2 separate regions of the Homo sapiens genome follow, and region 2 is linked to region 1. The links come from fine-mapping of genetic effects on gene expression. A gene starts in region 1. The other region holds a variant in brackets. All regions are shown on one strand. Distances are from middle to middle.

What was found.
Region 2: its variant is fine-mapped to the expression of MANF in whole blood (TOPMed, PIP above 0.99).

What each region holds. Positions count from the first base shown.
Region 1 is chr3:51,383,716-51,386,629 of GRCh38, reverse strand. It overlaps MANF (mesencephalic astrocyte derived neurotrophic factor), which reads right to left and starts at 1,339. Exons shown (of 4, transcript NM_006010.6): 1 at 1,194-1,339; 2 at 295-422. The coding sequence starts at 1,287. DOCK3 (dedicator of cytokinesis 3) reads right to left here. Exons shown (of 53, transcript NM_004947.5): 53 at 2,432-2,914. RefSeq lists a silencer at 1,144-1,513 and an enhancer at 1,574-1,923.
Region 2 is chr3:51,203,460-51,206,373 of GRCh38, reverse strand. All of the region lies in intron 12 of DOCK3 (dedicator of cytokinesis 3), which reads right to left. Among named protein-coding and RNA genes, the nearest start is that of MANF, 180 kb to the left of the region's middle. The variant C/T (reference allele first, on the strand shown) is at 1,441.

The sequences.
Region 1 (2,914 bases):
CCAGACATTGCATTATTTGTGTGTCCGACTGTCACTTCTTTCCCCTGATATTCCCAGTGCCTAGCACATAGTAGGTGCTTAATAAAGACTAACAGGATAAAAAAAAATCACAGTTGCAGAACACATGCTGCTTTGGGAAGGACATAGAAGCACTTCAGTCTTCTCACATTAGTTTATGGAGAGAGTAGCTGGCTTCCTGAACAGAGAGGTGGGCAAGGCCTTTTATCAAACGGCTGGTGAAGCCGAGGGTTAACATGAGCCAGGGCCAGTTGGGGAGGATCACCAGCTACTTACCAACCGATTCTCTTTGCCTCTTGCTTCCCGGCAGAACTTTATAAGTTCGTTTTCAATAGTGGCTGGTGAGAATGTGACATCTCTGTCTTTGAGGTCCTGGTAAAATCTTCCCAGATAAGAAATACAAACTGGAAAAGAGAGGGACGGGAGATGCTCAGCAATCACCAAGCTGTTCCAATCCACCAGAAAAGAACTCCGCCAGCAATTTTAATAGGAGACACGGAGATGAATCATTAGAGGTGAGCTTTTCCATCACCGATTTTTCTCAGGTGTCTACAGGTAGACAGAACCCGGTTCCAAGTGGCGGGGGTCCCCTGGTACACCCAGGGCATCAAAGGACCAAGCATCACCCAATGACCTATAAACGACTTCTCCCTGCTCCTTTCATCAAGTTTAAGCCCATGGTGAACACGTGTCCTTGAGACGGGACTCACTGTGACCTCATAAATGGAGAGACTGGAAGGTGAAGAGAAAAATGATCAAAATGCTGCTGCTAATTTCCAAATACAACAGCGGACCCAGAGGTGCAGCTTCGTGATCCCAACAGACAGGGCGCAGCACCCACGGCCAGCCCTGGAGCTCCCGACGCCGAACGGGGAGCGGTAACCTCTAGATGGTGGTGGGGACAATAACTCAGGAGTGATGGAGATTTCAGGACAAGTTTTCAACGGGATCTAGTCTCAACTTTTCTTCGTCGGACCAATGTTTTCTAGGCCCAAGAAAGATTTACTAGGGCGGGCGCCGGAGCCTCCTCATGCAGGCCCCGCGGGGACCTGCTGTCGCCCCCGCCCCCGCCCCCGCCCTCGCCCTCTTGGCCCCGGCCGTCTGGTGATGTTGTGGGGTTCAGCGCCGCCGCCAGAACGGTCACGGAGCGCGGCCCCCGGCCCCCTATCCCGCACCTTCGCAGTCGCCCGGCCGCAGCGCCCGGCTGCCCGGCAGCACGCTCAGAGCCAGCGCCACCGCCAGCCCCTGCGTGGCCCACATCCTCCTCATCCTCCTCATCCTCCTCCTCCTCCTCCTCCTCCGCTGCCGCCGCCGACCGACTGAACCGCACCCGCCGCGCCGCACCGCCTCCAAGTCCCGGCCGCGCGCCGTAGCTCCCCATTGGCGGGGGGCCCCCCGGCGCCCTCCCACATGCCACTTCCCCATTGGTCCAGGAGCCGCGAGCCCAGACGGGCGGCTCCACGCTGCCCTCCCTCATTGGCTGGTGGTGTCTGAGCCCTAGACAGTTGTCGGCCGCTGATTGAACCCGGGCTGGCCGCAGGAAGCGACTACAGCAGCGACGGAAGCGGTGTGGGCCGCCATCTTGGGTAAGGGCAGCGACTGTGGCTGAGGCTGGGTACTGCTAGCTGAATGGGGTTCGGCCACGCCTTACATCTGTTGAGTTGACCCGCGTACCCCTGCCCTGGGCCCCAGGCTCCCTCGAAAACCCCTGCTGATCTCCTCGCCCGGACTCCGACTCGTGGTGCAGGAGTTCTGGGGTCAGCCAAGACAACAGGTTAGGCAGGAAGGGCGGGCGGCCGCAGGCAAGGCTCAAAGAGGTTTCTTTTTTCTTCTTTCATTCGCGTGGGCAACGGATCCAACCTTTGAAAGCCCACCTGCTGATCCTCCACCTGACCGGAGCCCGCCGTGCATAGGCTGATAGGAGACGTGCGGGGTGGACGGACTGCGGGACATCTGAAGGAAGGGCTCAAGGCGCGCCAAGCTCAAAGCTGGGCCGCCACTCTAGACCGTGGAGGGAAGCGCCCGGGCCAGATCATCGGTCGAGGACATGGGGTCGCCTCAGAGTGGGAAGGTGAGGGGCTCGGGAGGTGCCCTTACAAGCTCTGAATCGTGGCTTGGTGGCTGGCCAGCCTCCTCCTGCCTCCCCGGCTAGGCCCTCGGGGTCCCCCGCTGCCGTGGGACCTCCTGAGTGGGGTCCCGGGAATCACCAGAGAAGCACTGGAGGATGTTTCCTTTTCGACTGCCCTCCTTTCAAGTGCCCTCCTGGCTGCCTGCCTTCAAGGCAGGATGCGGGAACCGTTGGCTCTACTCAGTGCAAAAAGGACATGTCTATAGGGCTAAAAAGGGCTTGGAGCCCGGCGACAAGGGTTGGAGAGGGGCACATCCTCTGCTCCCATTCAGTGAATTCAGTGGATCAGTATCACGTATTTATCTTTAATTCACATCACAGCAGTCAAGGAAGTGGGGAAAGGGGGAAAAAAAATCAAGTGGCAGATATTTACATCTAAAATTCACATTACTTGTTGGATTTTGAACATGCTACCACAATATATACAGTAAAATACCTCTTGGGACAATGGTACAAATTTTGTTTCCTTTAACTTTGCTTTTCTGGTACAGGTAAGATCATTTTTAAATCACTTTTTTTCTTTAAACATGAATACACAAAAGAAATGGTTAGAAGTTTCCTTGTTTTAAATAAGCACAGAATGCGGGAGGTTAAAAACACATTTATAGTGCTGAATACCAATTGGACATCACACTCTATACATTTTTTGCTCAAATTCCTGTACAAATACACAGCATTCAAATAGGTATTTACAAATAAGCTTGAAAGAATGAAAATCAGTATTTTACAATCTTTTCAAAGGGTTCTCATCTCTGGCCTCCCATTTCC
Region 2 (2,914 bases), 180 kb after region 1:
TAGATGATAAGGACTGTGTCTTGCTAATCATCTCCACCATGTAGCAAAACTTGTAGCACATAATAAGTGCTTAATATAATATTTGTTGAACAAATAAATGGAATAATTGCCAAGGTCAATTGGTTATTTCTTATAGCTTAAATGTTGCTAATTAAAACTTTGCCATCATTCTGCATCAGAATTACATTACACTAAGGCAGATATTGAGGAAAACATTCTGCATTATGGTCATCTTATGAAATCATTACTAGATTTATCTTAAGAGGAAAACAGTAAAAGAGCAGTGAAAACAATCACATTTCTGGGGAAAGTAAAGGAAAAATGAATGGTCATATTTGTGCCTATTTGAGTCAAGGAGGATGGGAGCACCAATGGCTGGAAGTATGCTTGAAAGAAACTCCTGGTAGCTTCAAAGGAAAGATTGTTTGAAATCAAATGTCATGCAGATTCATTTGCAGATTGCCAAGACTGAACTCTCGAAATTTTGCAGTCTACTCATGACTGGCTATAAAAAACATTTAGCTTTGCAGAACTGCCAAGTTATTGTTACAAAGGCATCAATTTACCTTCAATTACCAATGCTTCCTTTTATTCTCTTAATACAGCACTTGCTTTCAAATACTATATGCTGTTAACAATGAATTCTTTCTTTCTATCTATCTATTAACTGATCTATACAGGGTCTCACTGTCGCCCAGGCTGGAGTGTAGCGGTACAATCACTGGTCACTGCAGCCTTCACCTCCCCAGGCTCAGGTGATCCCCCTACCTCAGTCTCCAGAGCACCTGGGACCACAGGCACACACCACCATGCCGAGCTAATTTTTGTCTTTTTTTTTTTTTTGTAGAGATAAGGTTTCACCATGTTGCCCAGGCTGGTCTCGAACTCCTGAACTCAAGCGATCCTCCCGCCTTAGCCCTCAAAGTGCTAAGATCACAGTCATGAGCCACCACACCTGGGCCAATTGTTCAGTTTTTAAAATTATTCTCTTTAGTCCTAACCCCATCAAAGTCTTCATCATTTCATGCCTCTCTATCTTACTCTTCCATTCTTTTAGCAGCATCCTCGTGTTATACCTGATGTAGTTATTAAAGGCATATTTAGGTAAAAGTGCTTTCTAAATCCTTAAACCTCATACTGTGGTGATAGATGTGGACCTTCTTTTTCTTTTTTTTTCACTGTATTTATTTATTTATTTATTTTTATTATTATACTTTAAGTTTTAGCGTACATGTGCACAATGTGCAGGTAAGTTACATATGTATACATGTGACATGCTGGTGCGCTGCACCCACTAACTCGTCATCCAGCATTAGGTATATCTCCCAATGCTATCCCTCCCCCCTACCCCCACCCCACAACAGTCCCCAGAGTGTGATGTTCCCCGTCCTGTGTCCATGTGTTCCCATTGTTCAATTCCCACCTATGAGTGAGAACATG[C/T]GGTGTTTGGTTTTTTGTTCTTGCGATAGTTTACTGAGAATGATGATTTCCAATTTCATCCATGTCCCTACAAAGGACATGAACTCATCCTTTTTTATGGCTGCATAGTATTCCATGGTGTATATGTGCCACATTTTCTTAATCCAGTCTATCATTGTTGTACATTTGGGTTGGTTCCAAGTCTTTGCTATTGTGAATAGTGCCGCAATAAACATACATGTGCATGTGTCTTTATAGCAGCATGATTTATAGTCCTTTGGGTATATACCCAGTAATGGGATGGCTGGGTCAAATGGTATTTCTAGTTCTAGATCCCTGAGGAATCGCCACACTGACTTCCACAATGGTTGAACTAGTTTACAGTCCCACCAACAGTGTAAAAGTATTCCTATTTCTCCACATCCTCTCCAGCACCTGTTGTTTCCTGACTTTTTAATGATTGCCATTCTAACTGGTGTGAGATGATATCTCATTGTGGTTTTGATTTGCATTTCTCTGATGGCCAGTGATGGTGAGCATTTTTTCATGTGTTTTTTGGCTGCATAAATGTCTTCTTTTGAGAAGTGTCTGTTCATATCCTTCGCCCACTTTTTGATGGGGTTGTTTGTTTTTTTCTTGTAAATTTGTTTGAGTTCATTGTAGATTCTGGATATTAGCCCTTTGTCAGATGAGTAGGTTGTGAAAATTTTCTCCCATTTTGTGGGTTGCCTGTTCACTCTGATGGTAGTTTCTTTTGCTGTGCAGAAGCTCTTTAGTTTAATTAGATCCCATTTGTCAATTTTGGCTTTTGTTGCCATTGCTTTTGGTGTTTTAGACATGAAGTCCTTGCCCATGCCTATGTCCTGAATGGTAATGCCTAGGTTTTCTTCTAGGGTTTTTATGGTTTTAGGTCTAACGTTTAAGTCTTTAATCCATCTTGAATTGATTTTTGTATAAGGTGTAAGGAAGGGATCCAGTTTCAGCTTTCTACATATTGCTAGCCAATTTTCCCAGCACCATTTATTAAATAGGGAATCCTTTCCCCATTGCTTGTTTTTGTCAGGTTTGTCAAAGATCAGATAGTTGTAGATACGCGGAGTTATTTCTGAGGGCTCTGTTCTGTTCCATTGATCTATATCTCTGTTTTGGTACCAGTACCATGCTGTTTTGGTTACTGTAGCCTTGTAGTATAATTTGAAGTCAGGTAGCGTGATGCCTCCAGCTTTGTTCTTTTGGCTTAGGATTGACTTGGCAATGCAGGCTCTTTTTTGGTTCTATATGAACTTTAAAGTAGTTTTTTCCAATTCTGTGAAGAAAGTCATTGGTAGCTTGATGGGGATGGCATTGAATCTATAAATTACCTTGGGCAGTATGGCCATTTTCACAGTATTGATTCTTCCTATCCATGAGCATGGAATGTTCTTCCATTTGTTTGTATCCTCTTTAATTTCACTGAGCAGTGGTTTGTAGTTCTCCTTGAAGAGGTCCTTCACGT